2 separate regions of the Homo sapiens genome follow, and region 1 is linked to region 2. The links come from fine-mapping of genetic effects on gene expression. A gene starts in region 2. The other region holds a variant in brackets. All regions are shown on one strand. Distances are from middle to middle. Region 1 holds the start of TMEM72 (transmembrane protein 72). Region 2 holds the start of LINC02881 (long intergenic non-protein coding RNA 2881).

Region 1 (5,372 bases), 620 kb before region 2:
CCAATGACAGGAGGATGAAATGCGATACTGCATTTAAAATACACAGTGCAAAGCTTGGGCTTTGAGTATTATTTGAGTAAATACTCAAATAATCATGTTCATTCTCAGCAACCTCTGCTCTGGGCAGAGGCTGGAAGAGTGAAATTCAGCCCTGGAGATGGGGCAGTGGGGCCTCAAGCTGGAGCCTCTTTGCTCTGAGGGAAATTGGGAGGCCTTGCTCAAGTGCCCAGAGACATTTTCTGAGCAAGCCTCTTATGGGGAAGCCCATGCACATCTGTGTGTGAGGACACAGCCTGAGGGGAGGGCTTTCACTACAAGGCGGGGCTCAGGGACATGTCTCCCCTTCCCTCCATGCCCAGCCTGGACGGCCTGAGAGGTGCCTCCTCTGTCCCACAAAGGGGGCTCTTCCCATGCTCTTCCTGGCCACCTCAGCAGGGGCTGGGGAGTGGCAAAGGAGTTATTCAAGATTCCCCTGAGGTTAAAGGGTAAGAGGATGGCTGAAGTTCAAAGGGAAGCCAACCCTGCTTTCCTAGCCTGCAACTGGGACCAATGCTGTGGGACAGGTCCTTTCTCATCTCACAGGGGAGGAGTGCCCTGGACCGCTGTGCTCCAGGCTCAGTTAAATCCATTTCCCAGGACCCCTTTCCTGCCATTTGGTCTGTGCTGAGAACCTGTCACAGGGCTGAGCCTCCTCTGGGGCCTGAGTCTCACACTCAGGACATCTTTACCCTGTCTCTAGTGGACACGGGGAGAACCTGCTTTGAGGGATGGACAGGCAGGAGCTCCGGCATCCGCACAGGGGAATGTGGAGTGCTCACAGCCTGTGTGCCATTTCCCAGCTGTGTCTGCTTCCATGGGCGGCAATGGATGCCGCGTCTCAGCAACTGAGGCACTTAGACATCACACGGGCGCATGCATGCACATGGACCCATGGGCGCCTGCCCCCCAACCCCACATCCTGAGCCAGGGAGGTGAAGCAAATGAACCCGGTGTAAACAATGCGGGAGTGGTCTGTTATGTCCTGGAAACCACATGACTGCTCCAGAGGGAGGGAATTTTCTAATTTTAGAAACACTTCCACCCAGGTGCAACTACCTGAGGCCTGTTTATCCCAATTTGGTGGTGGCAATGATCCGTCTGTGCTCTACAACCCCTCATGATATGGGGCTGGACACTGAGGTGGGGCAAGAATGGTCTGCGGGACTTCGAGGAATCCTAAGGAGGCTTCATCCAAAGGCTGTGGCTTCATCCACAGTCATAGGGCCTTGACATGCTGGCAGAGGCACCCACCAGGTGCCGTCAGTGCTTTTGACAGCCCTGATCCTGTCTGCAGGGGGTCCAGGGAAGAGGCTGCTAATGAGAGGCTGTAGCCTCTTAGCAGCTGCCTGGTCCCTGCAGGTGACACTCTGAGTGCCCTTGGGTCACATGTCTTCCTAGCTTTTAAGAAATCCACACTCCCCACCTCCCTAGGGTTTCTGCAAAGTGAGGCCCTCTATTTCCGGTCTTATTTCCTCTCTAGCAGCAGTGCCCTTGTAAATGAAGCCTGGATTTCTCAACAGAAGATTTCAACAAAAGAGAGGCTTAGGAGAATAAGGAATTTGCAAATCCTATGTACTGGAAATAGGCCAGGAGTTCAGTGATGCTGGAAGAAACTCGAGATTTGCCCAAGAACACCAAACCCCTCTCTCTAGCCTCCCACTCCCTCCCAGCACTCTAGAAAGCCCGAGCAAGATCATTTGAAAGCCTGGCCATTAGAAGGGAGCTCATGGCTATTTTTAGTCTGAATCTCCTATCAAAACCAAGAGGGAGGCCCATTCTCAGCATTAACAGCAGTCCCTGTGCGGAGATAAAGGCTGTGGTTAAGACGAGCCCTATGTGCGCGCGCACGGGTTTGTGTGTGTGTGTGTGTGTGTGTGTGCGTGCACATGGGAGTGTCAGGGGCTGCAGACTCTTCCGGTGACTGAGATAAATCAGACTGTTAAACTGTCTCTAGCTAATCCATTAGAAGGATAGGTACATACATCTTAGAACAGCCTCTCGACGGGAGGTGGGCCTCAGCTCTGGGTGGAGTGTGGCTGGGGGAACTGTGGGATTCTTGGCATTTTACAGATTTGGAAACCAAAGCCTAGAGGGAGCAGGGTGGACTCAGATCAACAGACATGGAAACCTATTTAGGGTGGCCTTCCTCTCCCCAGGATGGCTTTTTTGCTTGTTGGGGGTCTTGGCCATCATTCTCTTATGTGTAGACGACAACGTGGTTCTGAAAGTGGCTGGATCTGGCTCCTCCCTCAGTGCCTCCACTCAGAGCCTCAGCAGAGCAATTCTGAACCTCTTCCTGCTGCCTACTCTGGAAGACAGGGAAGGTTTTGGCCAGAGCCCTGGCCTTTGTGAAAGTTGAAGGACCAGGGCTCCGGGCTGGCTGTCCCTCTGACCATGACCTTGGGCAAGGTCACCACCTGCATTTGAGCTCAGGTGCCCCAT[C/T]CTGTAGCAGGAGGGGTGGGGTTAAACCATCCAGCAGCCCTTCATGATCTAACTCATGGCCTAGATGCTGGAAGAGCCCACTGGCCAGCTCACGGCTGAACCCAGCCCAGTGCTCCTGAAATGACCCAGCTTCCCATTGAGCTCTGGAGTGTGTCATGGGGGCTTCTGCTGAGAGGTTTTCATCCTCAGTTCCACTTAGCCATGCTCAGTTCCTGCATCCTTAATCTGTCCAAACACCTGGCCAGCAGGTCCCCATCATACAGATCAGAAAGTGCAGCCTCAGAGGGGTCAGGGGCTCCCCAAGGTCATATATCACGCAAGTGACTAGGCTGGGGCAGGAACAAGCACTATGTGATTTTGACCTAGGAGAACTTTCCCATTTGGTAAGACCCGTGGGTAAGCTTTTGCCCAGTGGTGGGGAAGGGCTTTGATAGGGGGTGTGTCTCTCTTTGTCCCCAAGGGACAATGTGGCTCAGAGTTAAGGGCTCAGAATTCTGCCTGTTCATTTCCCCAAAACAGATCCTGGCTCTGTAGGGGGAATGGGGCTAAGGGTCAGGCCTGCCCTGGGGAAGCGAGCAGGCAGGGCTCAGGATGGTGGCTCTGGGCTCTGCTCTAACAGTCTGCCCTCCTGTCCAGTTGAGCAGCCCTGTGATTCTGCTGGGTGAAGGAAGGAGCCCAGCATCTCTGGGAAGCATCTCTGCTGCTAAGACCACAGTGCATTCCTGCAGTCAGACCTCAGACAGGGGTCTGGGTTCCTACAGGGTGTTCTGTTAACAGGGTCCAGCATGGGCCCGAGGGAAGCCTGTGATCTCCACGTCCAGCCAGGCTCAGCCTGTCCCTCCAGGGCAGAGCTGCTCATGACTGGGAGTTCTCTCTCCATGAGGTAGGGCTATGGTTTGAGTAAAGCAGGATGAGCTCAGTTGACCTTTTGTAGATACACAGCGAAGCCCAGCCCTTTCTATCTTCACCTTCTGTCTCCACCTCCATCTCATGACAACTCTCTGCGTAGGTGGGGTGGCCCCTGGAATCATTTTGCAGATGAGGATCTTGAGGCTTCCCAAGGTCACAGGGAGGGTGACTTGCCAAGCAAAGATCCAGCACCCAGCCCTCTGGTCCCCAGCCCTAGGCTCACCCCACTGCACTTGCTGCTGCTCTACAGAGCAGTGTTTCTAGGGGTCTTGGGAAAAAAATTGAAGCACAGAAGTGGCCAGATGTGCCTGCTGTCTCCTGGCCACCTCCCACCCCTCAGGCAGCCCTATCTGTGGTGCCAGTGTGCAAGGATCAGCAGCCAGGAGGCAGGGTCTTACCTGCAGCAGTGGTGATGCCCAGGAGCCGGCAGGTGTATTCCAGCCCAGTCCAGAACACCTGGAGCTGCATGGTGCCAGGGGTGAGGACAAAGTCCTGGCAGGGCAGGCAGCAAAGTCTTCGGCCCTGAGATGCTCCCGAACACCCTTGTGTAGGTAGGAGGCTGCTGGCTGTGGCTGCACACCGGGGCCCTGCCTTCCCAAACCAGTCCTGGCCACCGCAGCCTGGCCGAGGTGTGAATAGGGCTCACCTTCTGTGCTCTCAGCCCGTGCCCTTGCCAGGCACTCAGCTTAATCATTACCTTGGAAGAATGCTCCTGCTGCTCACACAACCCCAGCCTGGGCTGGAGCCGCTCAGCCCCAGCGCAGCCCAGCCGCCTGAGATCGGCGATTAGGGCTGGGCTGGAGGCAGTCTGGAGCTGGCAATTAACCGTTTCTGGCTGGGAGGAGGGAGCCAAGGAGTGGGCCAGGCCCTTCCTCACCAAGCCATGCCTAGAAAGTCACACCTGGATTTCACACTTGCTGGGGGCCTGTAGTGTCTGGCTCTGGAGGGGACAGTGCTCTTGCAGGTCTGTGCTTATGTGCATATGGGAGAGAGGAGTGTGTCTTTAAATCACCAGTAGAAACAACTTTTGAAATGAGTTCCAAGCTTTATTCTTCTGCGTATAGGTGGATTAGAAAGCTTTTCAAATCTGTCCCGGATTTGGACTCTGACTAGACATACTTAGCTCAGGCCCCGCCACGCAGAGGCCTTCCTTCCTCATTAACATGCATCCCAACATGGGACGTGGGAAATCATTTTGATTCTTTGTTTTGCGAGGGGAGTTGCTATGTCAATAATTAACCGGGTGACCTTGGGGAAACCCAAAGGCATCTGTGAGCCTTGGTAACTTTTGCAGAAAATAAATGTGAAGTTTTGGCTGAATTGGTGTTTTTGATGTACTTGGAGTGTCCCTGTAGCTGTTTCAAGGAGCCCAGCCTTTACACTTGGACAGTGGTGGGCTTTCCCTCATTCTTAATTTACTAACGGATGTGCTAGATTGAATGGTATTAAGATTTATCTCTCAGGTGTTTTTCTGAAATCTTTTACCCCTTTGCTCATATAAGATAGAAAACAAAACAACCAAATAAGGAAAAAAACTCCAAGCAAACCCAATACACATGCTCCTCAACTTATGATGGGGTTATGTCCCAAAAAACCCATCAGACATTGAAAATATTTTAAGTTAAAAATGCACTTAATCCAACCAACCTACTGAACATCAGAGCTTAGCCTGGCCTACTTAAATGTGCTCAGAACACTTAGTTTATGGTTGGGCAAAATCATCTAACACAAGGTTTATGTTATAAAGTGTGGAGTAGCTCATGTAAGAATATATTGTAGGGCATGTTGCTAGCCCAGGAAAACATCAAAATCCAAAATTTAAAGTACAATTTCTACTGAATGTACATCATTTTCACACCATCCTAAGTTGAACCATGGAAAGCCAAGGTCTGCCAATAATAACGGAAAACTCAAGAACAATTAGTTTGGCCCTTCCCTCCCCTCCCTTCCCCTCCCCTCCCTCCCCTTCTCCTTCCCCTTCC
Region 2 (5,372 bases):
CTTGCCTTGCTCCCAGGCCCCACAGAGGCATCCTTTCAGAAATGGCAAGCGCCGCCCCTCAGGATGGGGAGTGTACTGAGGCGGAGGTATTATGACGCATTGCCCAGGAACTGATTACAGCCTTTCTGAAAATATCAGAACAAACCAAAGTACTTTTTTTCTCTCACTCAACAACAATCAACACAGAAGACTTCTGTGACCAAATGTGTGGGTTTTCTCCCCACCACAAGCAAGAAGGCAGTTCTACATCGGACAATTCCAACATCGACACCTTCTACCTGGAGGTGGCCTCACACCCCACAAGCCCAAGCCTCATGTCCCAAGCCTGCCCTCCACTTCCAATGCCAATGGCAAGGTGGTCTTACCTGTGCTTCTGACCCACTGGCGTTCCCACGAATCAATGTTCCCAGGACGCCTCCTAACACTTGAATAATTCGCTAGAGCAGCTCACAGAGCTCAGGGAAAGGCCTACTTACATTTACTATAAAGGATGTTACAGAGGAGAGAGACACAGAGATGCCTGGGGCAAGACATATGAGGAGGGCGAGAAGCTTCCATGCCCTCCTGGGGCTGTCGAACTAAAACGAAGAAGCTGAAAGTTTTGCTCCAAATGCCATTGTTTATCCATTTTTGACCACCTGATCTGTTCCATTAGCTTCAAAAGATGCCTTTTCATTTGTTTCGTTTTGCCTTCGATGGCCTTCCGCCTGCCGCAAGCAACCCTCTAGAATATGGGCCTGTGCTTGGCTTTTCTACACAAACATGAGCAGCCTTCAATTACTGGGGGACATTCATTTCCTCCTTCCAACTAGAGAGCGAGGAGTGTCCCGGGGAGAGTGGGTCCTTGAGCTCCTCTGGGCCTTGCTTGGGACTTGGTCCAGGAGGTTATGGGAAGAAACTGGTTTAGAAGCTGACCTCATGGGTTCGCTATTCTTATGTAACACTTAGGAAGAGCAGAGACCCACGCGATTCAGTCCCAGAGCAATGTTGCGGTCAAGAGAACACAGTCCAGCTACCAACAGTTATTTCAAAATAATTCAAGCTCTTTGTTTATATTTCTGAAAGAAAGAAAGAAAAAAAAAGGGTGGCCCAGCTGGAAACTCGGCTTTAAGTCCCCTTTCAGGGGGCCCTCAGGTGGGCACCTGCTTGGAAACCTCTCCACCCCTCCAAACACCCTTTTCCTCTCTGAGTGTTCATTTGTTGATCCAGATTCTGAATAAATGAAGCCGTACAGAATCCACCTGGCAAAAATGGAAACTGCCTGGAGGCCAGGGCTGAGGGAAGGCCTGGAGCAGAGCCGGTGCGCGACCTCGCAGTGAGCAGGGAGGGCAGGCTGGGGACGTTCACCACCCAGAACGCCTCTGCTCCCCGCAACCCTGAGACTCCAGGCTCCCCTGTTCCTCCCTCCGGGAGACCCTGCCCGTCCTCCCCGCGGGGCTCCTTCGCAGTTCGGGGGAAGGGACGGGTTGCGTCCTCGGGACCTTTCTCTGCAGCCACAGCAGCGCATCCCAGCACCTCCTCCAGGAGCCCCGCCACCTCCTGCCACCCGGACTTTCCCCACAGCGCAGCGTCCCCTCGTCCTCTCAGGGCTGGAACAGCGGTACCCGCAGACAGTGCAAAAGGGAAGTCCCTGTTGCCTTCCCATGCAAACTGTAGGGCGCTTACAGCTGCTGGGAGAGGAAAGGAAAGAAGAAATACAGTGAGTGTGATATGGGTACAAAGAAACCAACACGGAGCTTCCGTGGGCCTAGAAAGGAGCCCCCAGGAGAAGTACACTGGGCCTGCGTCATCGCCTGCCTTCAGCGGGCTCCATCCTTCCCCAGGCCCCCCTCCCCACCCACCTCCCACCCGCGGTCCTCCCGAGGCCCCCCTCCCCGCCCCCCCTTCTCGCTTCCCCATCCCCCTCCCACCCGCGGCCCTCCCGAAGCCCCCCTCCCCACCTCCCCACCTCCATTCTTCGCCTCCCCAACCCCGCTCCGAGTCTCCCCGCCTCCCTATCCCGCCTCCCACCCGCGGCCCTCCCGACGCCCCCTTCACCTCCCCACTCCCGAGGCCCTCCTGAGGCCCCTGGGCTCCCGCTCCTCCGAGTTGCCTGCGGCCGAGTCCTGGCGCGGCCTGGGACTGCCTGTTGGGGGGAGGGGGTGGGGGGGGGTCGTTCCCAAAGAAGGGGAAGGAGGCCTTTCGTGAGCATCTGAGGAGTACATCCTCATTTTGTCTTCTCACTCTGTCCACCCAGAGCCTGTGACCCGGATCCAACCCGCGGCGCACAGACCCCGGCTCTGGGCACCCCTGGTGAGCGCCTTCTGCGCCAGAGCTCCGTACAGCACCAGCCCGCGCTCTCCCCCAGCTTCTGTTCATTTGCTGCAGTCCTGACGGGTCAGTTGCCTGAGCATCCATGCTGCCATCCATACAAACCCAGGCACGCAGAGATGTACATCCTTTACCCAGGGTGACACCATGTGGAGCTGAATCCAAGTCCGGGAGTCTGATGACCGTGTCTGGGCTCTGACCGCGCAGCCGTCTCACAGTGAAACAAATTGCGGACTGGCCTTGTCCTGAGTGGCCTTAGGAAGCTGCAGTGGCCTGCAGTCTCCTGGCCAGTCTGTAGAATTTGGCAAAGATGAGGCACCTTATAGCCTTACATGTTCTTATTTTTCTTTCCTTTTCTCTTCTTTATTTTCTTTTTTAAGGATTTGAATTAGTATATGTAAAGTGCTTAACGCAGGAGCTGGCAGAGAAAGTGGATACTCAGTAAATAACAGCAATTGTTAATTGTAAAAAGCATGCCACTTATCTGGTAAAATCCCCCATTCTAAGCACCCTGTTAAGTAGTTGGTAATTCCTCACTTGAAAGAAATTAAAAAGAATTTTTGTCAGTTTTTTAAAATATTGTTTTATTGTGATAAAATATTCATAACATAAATTTCACTCTTTTAATACTTTTTAAGTGTACAATGCAGATTAATAAGAGAAATGCATACAAATTTATTAACGTGTACACGGGAAAAATAAGGTGATTACCCAATATCCCATGAGGTCCAGATACTTATACAGCGTTTTTTCAGAGAGGAGGGTGGAAGGCGGAATGTAGGTGATTCTGTTGAGGGGCAATAAATTATTATTAAGGAGAATGAATGGGTCAAGAAACAGAGAGTTATTCGTAAATGGTTCTCTTTGAAAATTTAATAAGCTGGAGAAATGGATTATTTTTTTGAAAGCGTCTGTTCAGGTGTGGTCACGTGTTGGTTTTCTTTTCTGCAATAGATAATGAGATAAGAGGGAGGAGAAGGAAAAGTAATTGTTCTCTTTGGTGGGTCTGCAGGGTCTTCATGTAGATAAGGGAGAGGACTCTTCCAGCTTCTGTTGATCTTGAGGGACTTTAATTGAAAATACTCATACCAGGGAGCCATATTTTGGGGCCAAGTTCCCTGCGCTCCTTCAATCCTCCTGTTTGGAACTTCCCTAGAATTTCACATTATCAACAGCTGAATCAGTGATTATGGAGAGATTTGGGTTAGAGGAAAAGAAGGCAAAGAAGGGGAAAAAACAAATTGGGATAAGCAGAAAAGAAAAATAAATAAATATGTTGTCCCATATCTTCTTGAATCAGTCTCTTAGTCCTAAGAGTAGAAGCATTTGGTCAAACAGCTGTGTCCATTCTAGGAGGTGGCACTACAGAGGGGCTGGGCTTCTACAGCTGATGCAGGCAAGCTGGTCTTTAATAAGAGGCATTTCTATGGAAACAAAGAAAAACAAAGGTTTTTCTTAATGTCTGGAATAGTCCATAATAAACTAGTTTTTCTAGAGTCTCAGAAGTATCTTCAGATTGTAGTGGTAATCTTACAGATTTTCCTGGATTATAGTTTGAATTACGTGTTCATGTGAACTTCCTGAGTAGCCCATACATCAGCAGGCACAAAGGCTGTGTACATGTGAGTTGCTGTGCTGACTCCTCCTGAAGTTTATATCAAGTTGTCTAACTTTAGTTTGCAGGGCTTCAAGAAAAGCAGTTTTAAATTCTAGTGATTCCAAGTGAGAAAAATGAGAGAAAAGTTCAAAAGCATTAGTTTGAAGACTTGCAGCCAAGAAAGAATTCAGGATTTAGTCCAAATTGTAGGAAAATAATAAAAACTCAAAAACAATGGGCAAGACTAGAATCTGATAACAGGCATACTGTACTTGTCTTCTGAAATGCAATTTTTCTCTCCCGTTTCCCCGTTTTTACCAAGGATAAATCATAATTATGCTTGACAACATATATCATGATATATCAAAATAATAACATATTCAGAAAAATATGACTAAAAAATTAAACTCCATTATTTATTTGAGATTTGACAATGCTTCCCATATGATTTTAACATACCAAATAAGCTAAATATATCTTTCTTAGATTTCTAGAGGTTACTTTTGGAAAAGATTTAATTTTAGAAACTGAAATTTGACTTTGGGTAGTATATCAAATATTAAAGGTTTAAAACACTTGATCAAATTAGGATCACAGTTCACTGTAAATAATAGTCATTCATTTAACCAAAGCAATAATTCAAAAATTTCAAACAACCTTTACTCTTTGAGAGAGAAGACTCAGTTATCTAAATAATCAAAAGACCTAATAAAGATCTTTTTTTGCAGTTTACTCAAAAGTTGAACAAAAGCCTTTTACTATCCTTATTAATACTACATTAAAATCTTGTTCAAAAGAGGAAAGCATATTCTACATTTGTGTCAGTATATTATTAATGCTAAAGCTAAGTTTAATAAAGACTTATAAATAAATCCATCCAGTCTGAATCAGTTTTGACCATGCAAGATAAGCTTTCCATAAACCTCTTATAATCTTTTATAATTTTCTGTTAAAATTATAGGGAAAACCCTATTGTTCAAACATAGGAGCCAGGACTCTGGCCTTGCATTAGTGTGCTTTTCATATTAATGCTCAATCTTTAGAAAAACTTGAAATAATTCTCGTATAATTTTAGCCAACTTGCTCACACACAAAATTCTTTTCGCAAGATTCATCTTTCACAAACCTACAACTTACTTAAACCTCCAGTTTTGTCTTATACTTTCTCTTTTTGCATTGGGATTCTATAAAAATGTGATTTTCTCTCTTCTTTATTGTTTTGACCACAAAGTCCTCAGTCATGTAAAAGAAAAAAATCACTTTCTCTTTTCAACTTTCTTTGCATCTTACTTCCTTTATATGCTCTATAATAGAGGTTTTTCCTATAGCAAGTAGTTTTAATTATACATATTAGCTATAACATTGACTCTTAGTGCTGCAGGTAGTTAGACAGGCATGAGTGGGGCAGGAAAGGGCTCCCCACCCACTAGGAACATTAGGTGCTGGTTTGGCAATTATCACATTG

The links.
Region 1: its variant is fine-mapped to the expression of LINC02881 in prefrontal cortex (GTEx, PIP 0.97).

Annotation. Positions count from the first base shown.
Region 1 is chr10:44,909,999-44,915,370 of GRCh38, reverse strand. TMEM72 (transmembrane protein 72) reads right to left here and starts at 4,034. Exons shown (of 5, transcript NM_001123376.3): 1 at 3,789-4,034. The coding sequence starts at 3,858. The region is part of intron 2 of TMEM72-AS1 (TMEM72 antisense RNA 1); the gene reads left to right. The variant C/T (reference allele first, on the strand shown) is at 2,482.
Region 2 is chr10:44,289,599-44,294,970 of GRCh38, reverse strand. It overlaps LINC02881 (long intergenic non-protein coding RNA 2881), which reads right to left and starts at 2,221. Exons shown (of 3, transcript NR_164139.1): 1 at 2,038-2,221; 2 at 1,482-1,670; 3 at 322-1,058. It overlaps LOC124902544 (a long non-coding RNA gene), which reads left to right. Exons shown (of 3, transcript XR_007062369.1): 3 at 17-1,057.